2 linked regions of the Homo sapiens genome follow. The protein of the gene in region 1 purifies or fractionates together with the protein of each later gene. This does not show direct contact. Each region holds a gene or a part of one and is shown on either strand. Other genes may lie near its edges.

What was found.
Region 2: the proteins of SEPTIN12 (region 1) and PDS5B purify together in Homo sapiens (affinity purification with mass spectrometry; 3 studies listed by BioGRID and IntAct, with this or other methods). This does not show direct contact.

Annotation. Positions count from the first base shown.
Region 1 is NC_000016.10:4,776,644-4,786,243, forward strand, and holds the end of SEPTIN12 (septin-12), read right to left. Parts: intron 9,463-9,600; coding exon 9,337-9,462; intron 9,246-9,336; coding exon 9,164-9,245; intron 7,426-9,163; coding exon 7,288-7,425; intron 7,124-7,287; coding exon 7,006-7,123; intron 6,915-7,005; coding exon 6,819-6,914; intron 3,144-6,818; coding exon 3,047-3,143; intron 1,495-3,046; coding exon 1,443-1,494; intron 1,356-1,442; coding exon 1,154-1,355; 3' UTR 963-1,153; downstream 1-962. UniProt on the Homo sapiens protein: Filament-forming cytoskeletal GTPase. Involved in spermatogenesis. Involved in the morphogenesis of sperm heads and the elongation of sperm tails probably implicating the association with alpha- and beta-tubulins.
Region 2 is NC_000013.11:32,762,421-32,772,020, reverse strand, and holds part of PDS5B (sister chromatid cohesion protein PDS5 homolog B), read right to left. Parts: intron 7,533-9,600; coding exon 7,427-7,532; intron 1,901-7,426; coding exon 1,461-1,900; intron 1,371-1,460; coding exon of another isoform or gene 1,368-1,370; coding exon 1,260-1,367; intron 1-1,259. UniProt on the Homo sapiens protein: Regulator of sister chromatid cohesion in mitosis which may stabilize cohesin complex association with chromatin. May couple sister chromatid cohesion during mitosis to DNA replication.

The sequences.
Region 1 (9,600 bases):
ATGCCTTCCCAGGCCTTCAAGATTCCTAGGGCCTTGGGTCTCACATTATTCAAAAAGAAACCTGGGTGCTGTGGCTCATGCCTGTAATCCCAGCACTTTGGGAGGCTGAGGCAGATGGATCACTTGAGGTCAGGAATTTGAGACTAGCCTGGCCAACGTGGTGAAACCCCGTCTCCACTAAAAACACAAAATTAGCTGGGCGTGGTGGTGGGCACCTGTAATCCCAGCTACGCGGGAGGCTGAGGCAGGAGAATTTCTTAAACCCGGGAAGCAGAGGTTGCAATGAGCCCAGATCATGCCACTGCATTTCAGCCAGTGCGACAGAGTGAAACTCCATCTCAGAGGCTGAGTGCAGTGGCTCATGCCTGTAATCCCAGCACTTTGGGAGGCCGAGGCCGGTGGATCACTTGAGGTCAGTTCAAGACCAGCCTGGCCAGCATGGTGAAACCCCATCTCTACTAAAAATACAAAAATTAGCCAGGCATGATGGTGTATGCCTGTAGTCCCCAGCTACCTGGGATGCTGAGGCAGGAGAATGACTTGAACCCGGGAGGCAGAGGTTGTAGCGAGCCGAGATCACGCCATCGCACTCCAGCCTGGGCAACAAGAGCGAAACTCCATCTCAAAAAACAAGACAAAACAAAAAAAAAAAAACCCCAGAAAACTCCATCTCAGAAACAACAACCAACAACCACCACAAAAACATACTTGGTTGGCAGCAGTGGTAATCCCAGTGTTTTGGAAGGCTGAGGCGGAAGGATCACCTGAGGTCAGCTAAAGACCAGCCTGAGCAACCTAGTGAGGCCTTATCTCTACAAAAAAAAATGGTAAAAATCAGCCCATCAAGGTGGTGTCATGCCCATAGTCTTGGCTACTTGAGAGGCTGAGGCAGGAGGATCACTTGAGCCCAGAAATTTGAGGCTGCAGTGAGTCATGATTGCGCCACTGTACTCCAGCCTGGGTAACAGAGTGACACCCAGCCTTTTTATTTGTGGATAGCTCAAAGAAGTCATTTACAAAATGCCTTTTGTTTTCAAAGCACAGCTTTTCATAAAAAGCAAGGCTCACATTTAATAGATGCTCTGGTACATAGGTGTGTGTTGAGAGCCGCTGGGGACTCAGGAAGCCCAGCAGCCCCGGGATCCGCCGGTGGTCAGAACTCATCATCAGAATCGTCATGGGCCCCCCTGCAGACCTTGAAGGTCCGGGGGGTGGTCAGCTGTCCTGGGGAGGCCGGGGCCAGGTTCACCCAGCCGGGCCCGCGGGGCAGCAGGTGGCTTTCATTGAGTCTGATGACGCGGTAGTTCTCATAGTGGATGTTGTGGGTTATGTCCTTCAGGTCTTGGAGGTGGGAGCTGGGGGACCGGAGACGGTCAGCCCCGATGGTGGTGTCCCCAGGGCCCCTCGCCAGCCCCCTAGCCCCAGGCTCCCCACACCCTCACCGGATAAGCAGGTCTCTCAGGAGAGGAAATTCACAGTGCGCCATGTTCTCCACTGCAAGACATGGGACTCAGTATGGGCGCTGCTTAGTGAGCACTGAGTAAGTGCCTACTGTATGCACCACCTGACACCATTTCCCTTAGCCCTTTTCCCACATTTCTCTTTACCCTATCCTGCCTTCCCTTTGTTGGTTCATTCATTCATTCACCCACTGTTGTGTTCCCAGTGCCTGGTACAGGCGGCTCCTACAAATAGCTGTAGAATGAATGAATCCACCAATCATTATTGTATTATATGTACACTCGGCCTCTGTATCCATGGGTGCCCACTGTAGGACTTGAGCATCTGCCGATTTTGGTATCCCTGGGGGTCCTGGAACCACCCTCTGCGGATAGCATGGGTGCTATATCATAGGCAATAGTATAGTATATTTCTGGCTGGGCGCGGTGGCTCACGCCTATAATCCCAGCAGTTTGGGAGGCTGAGTTGGGTGGATCACCTGAGGTCAGGAGTTTGAGACCAGCCTGGACGACATAGTGAAGCCCCGTCTCTACTAAAAATACAAAAATTAGCCGGGTGTGGTGGTATAATCTGTAGTCCCAGCTATTTGGGAGGCTGAGGCAGGAGAATCGCTTGAACCTGAGAGGCGGAAGTTGCAGTGAGCCAAGATCGCTCCACTGCACTCCAGCCTGAGTGACAAAGCAAGACTCTGTCTCAAAAAAATATATATATATAGTATAGAATATTTCTAATAATTATAATAATACATCACCTGACCGGGCGCGGTGGCACACGCCTGTAATCCCAGCACTTTGGGAGGCCGAGGCGGGCAGATCACGAGGTCAGGAGTTTGAGACCAGCCTGGCAACATAGTGAAACCCCGTCTCTCATAAACATACAAAAAATTAGCTGGGCGTGGTGGCAGGTGCCTGTAATCCCAGCTCTTTGGGAGGCTGAGACAGGAGAATCACTTGAACCCAGGAGGCGGAGGTTGCAGTGAGCCGAGATCACGCCACCGCACTCCAGCTCGGGTGACACTGCGAGACTCCATCTCAAAAAAATAAAAATAAAAAATAATAATAATACATCAGGGGCTACATCCTCGCTGCCCCTCCTGTGTCACTTTCCCTAGCTCCCTAAGGCAGTCTCCTCTCCCTCCCGCCACAATCGCCTTCACTGTGCCTCCCCGACCTGTCCTTGTCCTGTCAGCTCTATGGGGACAGGGACCCTGTCAGTCCTCCCTTTACCGTGCACTGCAGTAACTGCACATAGCGGTGCCTGATACACAGTAGGCCCATCGTAATTTCCGGCCAGCCACTAGGGCAGCCTTGGGTATTGGGCATTGTGCAAAATGGTGGTTCTCCCCGCTCCAACACCCTAGGAAGTTGATGCACTGTGATGCCCACTTTACTGTGAGGAAACTGAGGCCCAGAGGGTCCGGAAACTTGCCACAGCCTCCCAGCTGGAAAGAGGGACCATTCCCCAGGGCTCTTTGTCTAGTGGGCTTCACCTTTCTGTGCCCTGTGATGGGTGCGAAGGTTGCCCAAGGCTGCTCTGGTTTCCAAACTGACCCCACCTGCATCCTACCCAGGGGCCCCGCACTGACCTTCAATGATGCCCCACTTGGTCTTCCGGCCCAGGACACACCTCCCGTTCACCAGGTGCTCTTGGTCAGCCCCTACCACGGCAAAAGGGATTCGGTCCTGGGAAAGGAGAAGACACAGAGATGGGAGGATTGACTTCGCTGGGGAGAAGAGAAGAAAAGTCAAGGCACCCAGGCAGGAGAGGGGAGTCCTATCCTTTTCGAGGAGGGAACATGGTAGAAAGTGCACAGAATTCCCAAGTTCAAAGACATAAAGTCTAATTGGTGCCTCTGGCTGAGTGAGGTAGCTCTTGCCTGTAATTTCAGCACTTTAGGAGGCCGAGGTGGGAGGATCACTTGAGCCCTAGGAGTTTGAGACCAGCCTGGGCAACATGGTGAAAGGCCATCTCTGCAAAAACTAAAAAATTAGCTGAGCTTATAATCCCATTATATTATATAGCGTATTATATAGCTCACACCTATAATCCCATAGCTCACTGCAGCCTTGACCTCCTGGGCTCAAGTGATATCCCCGCCTCAGTCCCCTGAGGAGTGAGGACCATAGGTGTGCACCACCATGCCTGGCTACTTTTTAAACATTTTTAGTAGAGATGAGTTCTCTGTGTTGCCCAGGCTGGTCTCTAACTCCTGGGCTCAAGTGATCCTCCCGCCTCTGCCTTCCAAAGTGGTGGGATTATAGGAGTGAGCTACCACACCCAGCCTGCCTGTCTTCCTATATATAAAGTTTTATTGGCACATAGTTGAGCCTATGAGTCATTTTTGTCTATGGCTGCTCTTGAACCATGACATCAGAGTTGAATCATCACAACAGAGACCCTACGGCCCAGAAAGTCTAAAACATTTACTACCTGGCCCTTTGCAGAAAAGGTTGTTGAACCCTACCGTAAACTCCAGTTGTTTACTTGCTCATGGCCAGAAGCAGAAATTCAAACTTGCAAACTCCGAAGTGACATATATGGGTTTTTACTTCTGAATTCATCTGTGATGGGGAGTAATGTGGATGTTGATAATATTGGGCGTGGTGGCTCACACCTGTAATCCTAGCATTTTGGGAGGTGAAGGCAGGCAGATCACCTGAGGTCAGGACTTCAAGACCAGCCTGGTCAACATGGTGAAACCCTGTCTCTAGGAAAAATAAAAAATTAGCTGGGTGTGGTGGCGCATGCCTGTAATCCCAGCTACTCAGGAGGCTGAGGTGGGAGAATCACCTGAACCCAGGAGGTTGGAGGTTGCTGTGAACGGAGATCCTGCCACTGCACCCCAGCCTGGGCCACAGAACAAGACCCTGTCTCTGCTGGGCACGGTGGCTCACGCCTATAATCCCAGCACTTTGGGAGGCTGAGATGGGTGGATCACAAGGTCAGGAGATCGAGATCACCCTGGCTGAAATAGTGAAACCCCATCTCTACCAAAAAGACAATAATTAGCCAGGCGTGGTATTGTGCACCTATAGTCCCAGCTACTCAGGAGGCTGAGGCAGGAGAATCGCTTGAACCCAGGAGGCAGGGGTTGCAGTGAGCGGAGATCACGCCACTATACTCCAGCTTGGGTGACAGAGGGAGACTCCATCTAAAAAAAAAAAAAAGACCCTATCTCATAAAAAAAACAACATTAAAAACAAAACAAACAAAACATTGTACGGTACGGGGGTTTTTAGTATTTGACCAGGGTTATGCAACCATCATCGCAATCTAATTTCACAACGTTTTCATCACGTCCCCCCAAAAAAACCCCATACCTTTTAGCAATCACTCCCCATTTCTCCCTTCCCCACAGCCCCTGACTACCACCAATCTACTTTCTGTCTCTATAGATTTGCCTATGCCTATTTGGGACATTTCATATAAATGGAATCCCATAATACGTGACCTTTTGTGTCTGACTGATTTTTGTCTGAGAAACATGTTTACAAGGTTCCCCCACGCTGTAGCAGGCAGGTGACAGGGTGACAGTGCTTCATTTTTTTTTTTTTTTTTGAGACAGGGTCTCACTCCCTTGCCCAGGCTGGGGTGCAACGGTGTGATCTCAGCTCACTGCAATCTCCATCTCCTGGGTTCAAGTGATTCTCCTGCCTCAGCCTCCTAAGTAGCTGGGATTACAGGCATGCACCACCACACCCGGCTAATTTTGTATTTTTAGGAGAGACGGGATTTCTCCATGTCGGTCAGGCTGGTCTCGAACTCCCGACCTCAGGTAATCTGCCCACCTCAGCCGCCCAAAGTGCTGGGATTACAGGTGTGAGCCACCGTGCCCGGCCTTTTTTTTTTTTTTTTTTTTTTTTTGAGACAGGGTCTCACTCCCTTGCCCAGGCTGGAGTGCAGTGTCACAATCTCTGCTCACTGCAACCTTCACCTTCCAGGTTCAAGCAATTCTCCTGCCTCAGTCTCCCCAGTAGCTGGGATTACAGGTGCGTGCCACCACACGCAGCTAATTTTGTATTTTTAGTAGAGACAGAGTTTCACCATGTTAGCCAGGCTGGTCTCGAACCCCTGGCCGCAAGTGATCTGCCCACCTCAGCTTCCCAAAGTGCTGGGATTACAGGCATGAGCCACTGAGCCCAGCCTTGAACTGTACACTTTTAAAGGGTGAACTTCATTGCTTTTCATGGTTAAGGGATAGTCCATGGTAGGGAATAGGCCGCACTGTGTTTCCCCACTCATCTGTTGATGCATATTTGGGTTGCTTCCACTTTCGGGGCTAAAATAAATAATGCTGCTGTGAACATTCACGTACACATTTTTCTGTGAATGTACATTTTTGTTTCTTTTGGGTATACACGTAGGAGTTCAGTTGCTGGGTCATAGAGTAACTGCATGTTTAAGCATTTGAGGAACCACCAGACTGTTTTCCAAAGTGGCTGAGCCATTTTACTTTCCCTCCAGCAGTAGGTGAGGGTTTCAGTTCCTCCACATCTTCCACAGCACTTTTTTTTTTAAGCTGGAGTTTTGCTCTTGTTGCCCAGGCTGGGGTGCAGTGGCGCAATCTCGGCTCACCGTAACCTCCACCTCCAAGATTCAACCGATTCTCCTGCCTCAGCCTCCTGAGTAGCTGGGCTTACAGGCACCCACCACCACGCCCAGCTGATTTCTTGTATTTTTAGTAGAGACGGGGTTTCGTCATGTTGGCCAGGCTGGTCTCGAACTCCTGACCTCAGGTGATCCACCCACCTCGGCCTCCCAAAGTGCAGGGATTACAGGGCTGAGCCACTGCGCCCGGCCAACACATTTTTTTTTTCTGAGATGGAGTTTCACTCTTCTTGCCCAGGCTGGAGTGCAATGGCGCCATCTCAGCTCACTCACTGCAACCTCTGCCTCCCAGTTTCAAAATTCTCCCGCTTCAGCCTCCTGAGTAGCTGGGACTAAAGGCGTGCACCACCACACCCAGCCAATTTTTTGCATTTTTGGCAGAGACAAGGTTTCACCATGTTGGCCAGGCTGGTCTCCAACTCCTGACCTCAAGCGATCTGCCTGCCTCGGCCTCCCAAACTGCTGGGATTACAGGCGTGAGCCACTGTGCCCGGCCCAATGTTCTCTATATATTCAGGATACAAGCCCCTTATTGGGTATGTGATTCGCAGACATTTTCTCCGATTCTGTGGGTTGTTAGTGTGAGCTGTTATTTCTTGCTCACCTTGAGCTTGTGGATGAGTAGAGAATCATATCTGCTAGGAATATGTGCACATTTCCCTGAGATGTAGAGAAAGATGAGTCTTTGGATGGAAAGGATGTGTGGGAAGGAAATCACCTCGCCCGCCTCCCGCCCCACAGCCTCTCACCCGTAACTTGCTGTTGAGGATTTTGTCATTGATGTCCTCGTCAAAGCACATCTGGGGGTAGACGTCGATGCAGTGGGTCCTCAGGTTCTGCTGGATCTGGAGATCCCACACAGGTGACCTCAGCCCACCCTGCCCACTCTGCCCTCTGCCCCCGCTGACCCCAGCCCTGCCCGGGCATCCAGATCACCCTGCGCCTGAAGGCCTCTCGCTCCTCCATGGTCAGGCTGTCGGCCCTGGCAATCACGGGCACCACATTCACAGTCCGGCACAGCCGCTGCAGGAACTCAATGTCCAGGGGCCGCAGGCTGCCGGAGGCAGGGCAGTGATGGGGGTGGCGGTGGTGGTGAGTGTATAAACGACAGCAGCAGGGCACGGGGGTGGGGGCAGCCGGCAGCCCATGGTGGGGACCCCTTCTCCTCCTCCCTGCCCCGTGCAGGTGGTCCTCGCCTTGCAGGTGCAGCCCCCTCACCAGTGCCCAGTGGGTGGTACAAAGTACACGCAGCAGTGCACCCGGGTGTCTGGGATGTGGCGCTGGCGGGTGATGAGGATCTCCTCCTGCAGGTACTGCTCGTATTGCTCGTTGATGTAGCCCAGGATGGGGTCCCAGCTGAGGCGGGAGGTGGACCCTCCCCTCAGAACTGTGCTGTGCCCAGAGAGCCCCACCCCTCTCCTCTGTGTCCTCTGGGCGGTCCTCCCTTGGGACGACGAATCGTCCCGGTTGGCCCGGGACCTGTGGGTCACCCCGGTACTTTCCCCCACTTCCCTGCATCATCAGAGACACACAGGGAGACCTCCTGCCATTCTCGGCTTCACTGTCTGTAAAATGGAGACAATAGTAGCACCTACGTTGCAAGTAAGGGAGGGGTGAGCATTAACTGTATTAAAGGGCCACAGCTGGGCCCAAACCACCAAGGAATCGCGCCTGATGGTTGCAGGGGTCTCCCTCCTCCTCTTCGAGTCCCTTCCCCTCTTGGGTATTGTCAACACTGTAAGTAGCCAAACAGATCCTTTTAAAAACAGGTGTCAGGCCAGGCCCGATGGCTCATGCCTGTAATCCCAGCACTTTGGGAGGCGGAGGCAGGAGGATCGCTCGAGCCCAGGAATTCGAGGCTAGCCTGGGCAACATGGGGAAACGCCAACTCTACAAAAAATACACAAATTAGCTCGGTGGGGTGGCACGTGCCTGTGGTCACAGCTACTCAGGAGGCTGAGGCAGGAGGGTCCTTGAGCTTGGGGAGGTCAAGGCTGCAGTGAGCCATGATCTCGCCACTGCACTCCAGCCTGGGAAACAGACTGAGACACTGTCTCTAAATAAATAAATAAATAAATAAATAAATAAATAAATAAATAAATAAAATGAAACCAGGGCCAGGTGCGGTGGCTTATGCGTGTAATCCCAGTGCTTTGGGAGGCTGAAGCAAGTGGATCACCTGAGGTCAGTAGTTCGAGACCAGCCTGGCCAACATGGGGAAATCCCCGTCTCTACTAAAAATACAAAAATTGGGCCGGGTGCAGTGGCTCACACCTGTAATCCCAGCACTTTGGGAGACTGAGGTGGGCGGACCACCCGAGGTCAGGAGTTTGAGACCAGCCTGGCCAACGTGGTGAAACCCCGTCTCTACTAAATAAATTCAAAAAAGTAGCCGAGCGTGTTGGCGGATGTCTGTAATCCCAGCTACTTGGGAGGCTGAGGCAGGAGAATTGCTTGAACCCCGGGAGGCGGAGGTTGCAGTGAGCAGAGATTGTGCCACTGCACTCTGGCCTGGGTGACAAGAGCGAGTCTGTCTTAAAAAAAAAAAAAATTAGCCGGAAATTGCTTGAACCCAGGAGGCAGAGGTTGCAGTGAGCCGAGATTGTGTCACTGCACTCTGGCCTGGGCGACAAGAGCTAGATTCTGTCTCAAAAAAAAAAAAGATCACACAGCCTGGCTGTTCCAGGTCTGGGGTGTTTCCCAAAGGTTGAAGGGGGAGGGGCACGGACAGGAGGGGACAGCCATGGCTTGGCCCCCACCTTTGAGAACCCACCACTTGTTGCGGGCACAGTGGCTCATGCCTGTAATCCCAGCACTTTGGGAGGCCGAGGCGGGTGGATCATCTGAGGTCAGGAGTTCAAGACCAGCCTGGCCAACATGGTGAAACCCCATCTCAACTAAAAATACAAAAAAAATTAGCTGGGCGTGGTGGCGGGCGCCTGTAATCCCAGCTACTTCGGGAGGCTGAGGCAGGAGAATCACTTGAACCTGGGAGGTGGAGGTTGCAGTGAGCCGAGATCATGCCATTGCACTCCAGCCTGGGTGACAAGAGTGAAACTCTGCCTAAAAAAAAAAAAAAAGAGAGAGAACCTACCAGTTGTCATTGTTGATCTGGTCCCCGAAGCCGGGCGTGTCCGTCACCGTCAGCTTCAGCTTCACACCCTTCTCCTCTATGACTGTGGAGGGAGAGCAGAGTCGGGAGAGACTGGACCCAGGTGGGATGGGGTGGGGCAGGGTGGGGTGAGGTGTGGGCAGGGGCTCACTCACCATGGGTCAGTGAATGCAGCTGCAGCGTCTGGGGTGTGGGCACCCCCAAGCCCGGTGGGTTTGACTTCCACACTTTGGACTTGAACAGCGTGTTCACCATCGTGGACTTGCCCAGCCCGCTTTGCCCTGGGAGTGGCAACCGGATGACAGCAGTTAGGGTGGGCGTTTTAGGCAGTTTTTCTCTAACTCTTTACTTTTCTATTTTATTTTTGGAGACAGGTTCTCACTCTGTCACCCAGGCTGGAGTGCAATGATGCAATCCCC
Region 2 (9,600 bases), on another chromosome or scaffold:
GCTTCCCAGTGAAAGGAAGATAGGCTTCCAAGACAGACTACAGAATCTTCTTCCATATCAATTTTTTTTTTTTTTTAAGAAATACTTGTTTGGTTTAGAACATTCATAGGACTTGTGTAATTTTAGGAGAGCACAATAATCATTTAAACCCTGAATTTTATGATGTCCAAATATAAACAAACTAAAATTATGAGGTTTGTTATTTCCTTGTTACATCATTCATGTGTATTTTATTAAATAAAGGATTCCTTAAGAATCCTTTGTTTAGAAATAGTGATTTGGTTGAATCCAAACACATTTATAAAGCTGCCACAAAAATGTACTTACCTTTACTTTTAACCTGATAGAAAAATTACATGGAAGATGGCATGAAGTACTGGCTAGACACCCAGGCAACTTTTCCTCTTCCTGTGGAATACACAGGAATAGGAAAATCTCTAAGATAATTGAGTATTTAATGACAGTACATTGGCAACTCTGAAAAGTCGAGCCATGATGTAATTATGTATGGGTGGGATTACTCTCAGAAAAAGTGTTAAATTTCTGACTAATAGAAGACATGCTACTCTATTTCCACTCACATAACTAAGGAGAAAAAACACTGTCAGATCTGCAAATTACAGCAGTGATACTCTGGTGACACTAAAATTTGAGGTACAGATTCTTACTGTACCTCTCTTATAAATGTGTTTGTGTGAACATCTAAAACTATATACATGTTGATGTAGATAAATGAACTGGGTTAGAAAACAAACAAAATCAAGATATCAAACACTTGAGACCAACATGTGTTAATTTCTATGGATATAATTTTTAAAAAATGGTACCTGTTACTTTCCTACTACAAGTTCAAAGAATAAAAGCAGAAGCATAAGACCTATTTTCCTTTTTTTAAAGGAAAAGGTGCTAATGAGAAACATTTAAAAAAAAAATTGTAGTGTGGAATGACAAGGCAACCTGGTCAATGTGTGGTGATTATTTAAAAATACCTTATGATTTCTTTAGATATCATAAAGTCTGTATAGGAAATAATATACTATTTGGTATTCATTTATGAAGATTTGCCTGCACCTGTAAAAATGTACAAGATAGTTTATTGAGATATCAATCACTAAGGTAAGTTTATAAAAATTTTATCTTACCTAGTGTAATGGGGCTAAATATATGGAATTTAAATACAGCAATATGTATGTTTACAAATTTAGGAACTTTTGCAAAATAATTTGAAATTGGTTTGAAATGTAATATTTACAACTTACACATTTTTTTTTGGTTGTGATGGTGATGGCGTTTTTGATGGTCTTCCTCGTCCTTTCTGTGGTGTGGACTGTGTGGATTCAATTGCACTAGATTCAGGAGATTCTGCTCTGCTTTGGGGAAGACCCAAATGTGGATAGCATCAAATTATGATTTATAATATAGTAACGAAACAGATGCAGTTTAGAGTTACACATGCTTACCTCTGCTGTGCTCTCCTTGACACTCGGTGCTGTTTGCTTTTGGACTTCTGTTCCGTATTTCCACTTTGTCTTTCTTCTTCTTCCTCCTCCTCTGGTGCTGGAGGTCCAGATTTTTTTTTGCTTCCTTTTTTAGAAGTTTTCATTGTTGGCTCTTCTTTTGGTGTACCTCCACCAAGAGGTTTTGGTGGTCGGCCTCTTTTACCCTTTTTTGGCGGACTATTCTGTTCATCTTCATTTTCTAATATATCTTCTTTGAGCCTCTTTTCCTCAGGCCACTGCTGTTCATCAGATTCTGAAGCCGTATGGCCTCTTTTCCGACTTCGCTGACTGCCTTTAGGTTTCTGTTCCTGTACCAACTTAGTCAAGTCATCCATACCTAATTTCTCCTCCTGTTCTGTGACGGGCGTTTTTTTCCTGCCTCTAGGCTTCTCCAATTCAGACTAGGGGAAAAAAAAAATCACAATTTATGGTTATGAAATTGTGAGTATACATATTTTGAGGAATGAAACAAAAAAATCTGTTATCTAATGTTGTCCTAGATATGTACCTAAAATATACAGCTCTTAAATACACCAGAACTGTATTTATTTGCTTTTATTATAGTTTTTAATTTTAAAAACTTATCTGGGATAAAAGGGTACATTTGCACTCTTACTTTTCAGCTAGAGTGTCTTAAAAGGAAACCTCTCAAGATCAGTATCTTACTAAATTATAAATTTTAGTGAAGAGCTATCTCATTAAAAAGAGCATTATAAATTCAGTGCTTGGTCCTAAATGACAACTATACTAAAGTATCTGTTTGGATAGTCAATTTAAGTAATTCTAATTTTACCACATAGTGCGTAAGACATAAAATATTAACTATATGACATGCTTACAACATCATAAAAGAACTATTATTTTACAAATGGAGGTTGCAAGATACAAAAGGTAAACATATTCATCATTTATTATAAATTTTGGAAACACTTCTGAATTAGAAATACTGCTTCTTTCTAGGTATAACTAACTGATTAACAACAGAAACAACAAAAAACCAGTGGCTTTCACATTTAAAATAAAATCCTAGTCTATATTCAGAGAATCTATATGTGAACCAGCGTGAAGGCTGAAGAAATTCTCCAAAGACCCAAGAATAAATTGTATGTATGAACACTTATAATACAAAGTTAATTTCCAAAAGTCTGCGCAATTTATATTTTCAAAAATCACTGAAAACAACAAAAACTATCGAATTATCTGTAACTTTTTCTAACTTTAAATTGAGCTTCCTGTATGTGAACTGCCTAATTACATCCTTCGTATTGTGTCCTTTGTCAACTTTGACTACTGCGGTGTTAGTGGGTTTTCTCTATATTCCTCTATGCTTTTGTGTATGCCTCTATGCTTATTTTTAAGTGTTATTTCTTTATTATTAATATTATCTTTTATTATTTTTGAGATGGAGTCTCACTCTGTCACCCAGGCTGGAGTGCAGTGGCACCATCTCTGCTCACTGCAAGCTCCGCCTCCCAGGTTCACGCCATTCTCCTGTCTCAGCCTTCTCCCGAGTAGCTGGGACTACAGGTGTCTGCAACCACGCCTGGCTAATTTTTTTTTTTTTTTTTTTTTTTGTATTTTTTTAGTAGAGACGGGGTTTCACCGTGTTAGCCAGGATGGTCTCAATCTCCTGACCTTGTGATCCGCCCGCCTCGGCCTCCCAAAGTGCTGGGATTACAGGCATGAGCCACTGCACCCAGCTTTTTTTTTTTTTCTTTTTTTTTTTTTTGAGACAGAGTCTCGCTCTGTCACCCAGGCTGGAGTGCAGTGGGTCAATCTTGGCTCACTGCAACCTCTGCCTCCCGGGTTCAAGCGATTCTCTTGCCTCAGCCTCCCGAGTAGCTGGGACTAGAGGCATGTGCCACCATGCGTGGCTAATTTTTGTATTTTTAGCAGAGATGGGGTTTTGCCGTGTTGGCCAGGCTGGTTTCAAACTCCTAAACTCAGGTGATCCGCCTGCCTCGGCCTCCCAAAGTGCTGGGATTACAGGTGTCATTGCACCTGTCCTTTAAGTGTTATTTCTTACTTGCTTTGGACTGAATTGTGGCCCCCACCACCAAAGAAAAAAATTGTATGTTCAAGCTCTAATCCCAATGTGACAGTATTTGGAGATGGGGCCTTTGGGAGGTATTTCGTTGAGATGAGGTCATGAGGTGGCACCCTCATGATGAGATTAGTGTCCTTATAAGAGGAAACATCAGTGAGCTTGGGTGCCTTTCTTCTTCCTCCCACCCCACACCTCTCATGTGAGGACACAGGAGAAGGTGGCATCTGTAACCCAGGAAGACAGCCCTCATCAGGAACCAAATCTGCTGGCACCTTGATCTTGTACTTCCAGCCTCCAGAACTGTAAGAAAATATAGTTCTGTTGTTTAAGCTACCCAGTCTGTGGTATTTGGTATTTTATAATGGCAGCTTGAGCTGACTAAGACATTATTGTGTATTGTTTTAGAACAGAATGTGAGATGAGATTCTAAACTGGATTTTCCACTCCCAAAGACACATCCAACCATTTCAGAATCAATGATTTGTAGTGCTTCCTTTATTTTATATGTTTTGAACAAGAATAATATTTCTGGGCTATCATAACAGAAGCACAATATTTTACTAAGTATAATTATGTATCTGGTAGGGCTGAACCTACCTTTATTTCTCCTCCTTTTATATTTATTTATTCCTCCACATAGACTTGAAACAAAACCATGCTGGAATTTTGCAATTATATATTCAGTTGAAAAAAACTTTCATCCTTTTTTATTCCTTTCTCCTATACAAGAACATGGCCTGTCTTCTCTCTCTTCAAGTCTTCCAGTTTTGAGATTTTCTACATATAGGTCCTCCCTATCTCAGTTTTGAGATTTTCTACATATAGGTACTCCCTATTTCTTTTAAAGGTTATATTTAAATCTATGAATCTGTCAATCAGTCAATCTATGTTTGTTGTTGCACTGGTTCTTGTGATGAAGAAAATAATCCCTTTTCCCCTAAATGTACATCTGATACAAACCAAAATTATCAGAGTAATGTTAGTTACAAACATAAATATATACATAGGTAGGGATAGATTTTCAATTGCTTCTTTTATTTTTCTAAGATTACAAAAATAACAATTGGTCAAACATTCTAGAGCAATTTTTAAAAACAGTGGTGACAGCAGGTTGCTTGTTTTGTTCCTGATTTTTAAAAAGAATGCTTCAAGTATTTTGCCTTTAGGAAGAATGGCATTGACTACTGATTTAAAATAGACAAAACTTTTAGCACATTAAAGATGTATCCTTCTGGTACTAGTTTACTAAAAGTTCCTATTTGTCAAGAACGGATCTTAAGTTTTATTTATGTCCTCTTGGCATGATCTGAAATTATTTTGTTTTTGGTTTTCCCTTTGGTTTATTTAATATACTATCATAGTAAAAGATTTGGTAACATTAAGCTATCCTTACATTCTAAGGAGAGGGGAAGATCTATACATGACTGGATTTAGTTTGTTTTATTTATTTAGAGTTTTGTGCACAAATTAAAAATTAACTGTTTTTACTCAAAGATAAGAAGGTAAAAGAAATGTTAAATTAGAACTAAATTTAAAATGTCACTTCTTATTTTAATTACTATAATTCTTTTTGATGTCCAAAGATCTAAAAAGGTAGATGATTTCCTTTAAGCTCTGGAAAAGGTTGGTGGTAAAAAGAAAACCCAATGTCTACTTTCTTGAGAATACTAATCTAGTTTCCTAAAGCACCACTACTTATTTCTTTTTCATTTTGCATTGCACTGTTTTAAGAACAGAGGGAGTATAAAACCGAGGTTAGAAGCAAAAGACAGGAAAATATTTTATTTATAAAGCTAAATATTTAAATACAAACGTATATGGAAAATAATTCCTTTGCTGTGAAATTTCAATGAGAAGCTGGTAACAAGCAAATGAGACCGTGCTCTTTCATTATAATCTACTGGTCTTTAAATTCAACTTGTGTCTCATAATACTCATCTCTCTGAGGGCACTTCAGTCAAAACTAGCTTATTAATAAGATTCTTCTAGCACCTCTAAAACTGGACCTAACGTTACACATTATCCATGCCACAACAAATAGCAAAAGGCCTCCATTACAATCATACTAATAGGTCTCAAGAGCTCAAAAATTCAAAACAGTTCTATGAAAAATAGAGTAGACTTTGTTCTGTACTATCCCAAAAGGTAAAAGCAGATGCAAAATTTATAGGATAACAGAATATTAAGAATTAATAAAAACCATGTTTCCCAACTTTTGGGGGATGGGAACACCAAGGTATAAGTGTAGTACACTATAGGTGTGGGTATGAGTGACCTAGTTGACTTTTCCAACAAATGAAATACATCATGAGCTCTCTGCTTAAAGCATTTTCAACGTGGTGACCAGCTCTCATTAATAATAAAGGAATTTCTGCAGTAAGTGAGAACTAAGAAGACATAATACCTTTTCCAATTCAAGGATTTTCTTCTGTAAATCCAGATAACAAGATTGTTTCCAAGCTAAGTGATCAATTCTTAATTTTGCTCATGTGAAAATTTTAAACAGCCAATAAACATCGTAACTTACAGTATACATAGTTAGAATTCAATAAAATTTTAGAATAATTCTTTCACAGCGGGCAGTATGGCTCAAGCCTGTAATCCCAGCACTTTGGGAGGCCAAGGCAGGCAGATCACCTGACATCAGGCGTTTGAGACCAGCCTGGCCAACATGGTGAAACCCCGCCTTTAAAAAATACAAAAATTGGCTACGCATGCTGGCACATGCCTGTGGTCCCAGTTACCCAGGAGGGTGATGCAAGAGAATCACCTGAACCCGGGAAGCGGAGGTTGCAGTGAGCCCAGATCGTGCCACTGCACTCCAGCCTGGGCGACAAAGTGAGACTGTGTCTCAAAAAACAAAACAAAACAAAACAAAAAAGAATAATTCTTTCTAAATGGAAATAAACACTCTGCCAAAATAAGTTATTGGAGAAACATGAAAATAAACTTCTTGGCATGTGTAATGCTGGACTCGTGGAAGATGGGCAGTAATATTTTAGAGAAAGTAAAAGTAATTATTTCTTGGTTAACCTCTCACCTCTCTTAATCACGTAGATTCGAACATTTTAACTTTTATTATTATGATAACCATAATCAAAAGTCGTAACAATGAAACAGCAGCAGCAATTCATTTTGGCTAAGTCACTTACTCTGATAAAGCTTACCAGCTAAGTATCCATAATTTACATACAGATAAGAAAATTGATTCTGATAGCCTAATTAGTTATTAAGGAAATGATCTGAAGCTGAACTGTAAAGTCAAAACAAACCCAGTTAAGTCCATTGAGTTGTGTTAGAAGACATAACTGTATTTTGTGTCTATGCTAAAACTTAACAAATTTGTCTTAAAACAACACAAACTGTCTATCATACAAGTTATCATTTTATCATTTCTATTAAGATTTAAAAACTGAACAAGGACTTGACGAGAACTATAGCATTTTCTACCTTTAACAGCAGCTTATTTAGTAAAAGGCTCAAGAAATAAATTAAATGAAAGAAGTTTTAAGGGTCCTCATTCCATTCCCCTTCTCTAAGGCTAAGTCTAAATATCCTATGTTAACAAAAACAACAACAACAACAAAACCACAAGCAAATGAGGAAAACAATACAAAAACCAAGCAGTTGAGTATGCAACTGGCAAGTCTAATACCAAAAATCTGAACAATTGAGATTACTTATCACATTGATAAGAAGCACAGATTCTATATACTTAAATTACATAGAGGATAATTATAAACTCAGGTTTGTGGTTAAAACCACTAAAATAAAATAAAATAAAATGTAAATTTGATAGTCATGTTAACTGGTTTCAGTGTAAACATTACTAAGTAAAATTATCATTAATATTATTATAAAATCAATGCAAATATCTCACCCTTACAAGATCAGAGTCGTCTCTCTTGTCACTTTTTTTCCCCGGCAAAGGTGAAGACATTGTGTAATCTTCATTTTCACTGTGATCCATTTCAGAACTATCAAGCCTTTTAATACAGACATTTGTAATTGTTATTACAATCAAATAACCTTACAAGCTTTTTCTGTTCCTAGTGTAGCTTTACAGATTTATGGAAAAAATTTCGTTCTTTTCAAAAATGAATCAGTTTCATTCTACCATATTTGGTACCAACTCAACAAGCAATGAAGCTCATTTAATTTAATATAGTGAGAAAATTTTAAAAATCAAAAATTTAAATCTAATATTTTTCTAAGTCTTTTTAAAACCTAAATTCTATTTTGGGGTCAGATCATAGAACCAATTAAAACTTTTCTCGTTGGCAGTTTAGCTTGGTCTACACTGCAACCTGCCCTGGTTCCTTACCCTATTCTATTTTTTCTTCTCTCTGTAGCATTTAACACCCTCTAACACACTATAATTATTACATTTATTACGTACTGACTGCCTTCCCGTTAGAATATAAGCATGAATCTTGTGTCAATCAATTTTACTTACCAATGTATGCCAAGCACTTAAATCAGTGCCAGGCATAGAGTTGGCATTCATATAAAGGTCCAGGCCTCTGTCCTGGGTGGTCTCACCTTTATCTAGTTTTTAAAACTATTTATATGTTGTTGAACTCTAAATCTCAATCTCTGGTCCAGCTACGCTGAGTTCTAAACTCACATATCCAATTGTCTACTCAACACTTCACTTGAAATTCTAATAGGCACCTGATCTTTAATGTAGCCAAAACAGTTATTTGAACACTCTTCTTATTTCCACTTCCCCAAAACACATACATACAAACAGAGCCTGTTCTTCCTCAAGGCTTCTGTATCTCAGTAAACGGTACCACCATCTCTCCAGTTATTCAGGTAAAAAGCCCAGGATACACCCTTAAATCGTCCCTTTCCCTAACTGTTCACATCTAATCCATTAGAAAGATCATCTGATCTATCTAACATCAAAATAAATCTGAGGGTGGTCGAAAGGCAGTGAGTTATTCTCAACTGATTGCTCATGGTTAGTTAGACATCAAACTCCTTGTTTTAACTCACTCCTCCCTTCTCACTACTGCATTTCACTACTCTTAAAAAAAAAATCTGAAATTTGACTATTTACCATCTTCTTCCCTCTTCATCCCTGCCATAGATTATGATTCGCTGACTCCTAATTGCTTTTTCTACCTCAATTCTAGCTCCTCTATAGTACATTCTGCACAAATCATCAGGGCAATTTTTTTTAAAAACCACAAATGAGATTGCTAGACTCCCTGGCAAATCTTTCAGTTGCACTTAAAATCAAATCCAAACTCCTTACCATGGTTTACGAAGTCCAAACATAATCAGACTACCTCTCAACTTCCTCTCATAATTTTTCCCTCATTCCTACTCTCCAACCAAACAGGTTTCTCAAATATACCTACTTCATTCCCCTGCAAACAGTCCCACTAAACAGACGGAATTTGGAAGAAAAAAATAACAAAACAGATTGGTCAAACATTGAAAGAAAGTTTAAAGAAAACTATATTGAAAAAGTATAAATTAGGATACTTTTGTGTTGAATAACAAATGGATGATAAGGAGAGGGTGAAATTATACTTGTCTTGAAAGCAAACAAGGGAAGCCAATTAAGATCTCTGAGCAATGAAATAACATCACGACAGTAGTATTTTTAAAGGATTATCTAGCAGTGATACAATATACACAATTGAGAGGAATAAGGAAGTAAACTAGTCAAATACGACAATAATTAAAGAAAGAAAATGAACTAAATGATGACAGTAAAAAGAGAAGTACAAAACATTGCACAGAAAAAAAGTTAGCAAAACTTAGCAACTGAAAAAATATAGAGGGGGGAAGAGTCAAACACAATTTCGAGGCTTTCTGCCTGGGTGAATTAGATCATCTTTGATTATAATAAGGAATTCAAGGAGAAAAACCAGTAATTTAGAAAATGAGTTGATGGAAATGTTTCTGGTCATGTTAAATATGAGACCATTTGATAGAAAATGTCCAACTGATATAACTAAAGGGTCACTTTGGTATTAGCCACTAACATGCATTAATACAGGAATCTAGAACAAACAAAAGCTATAAATGCAATTTCTT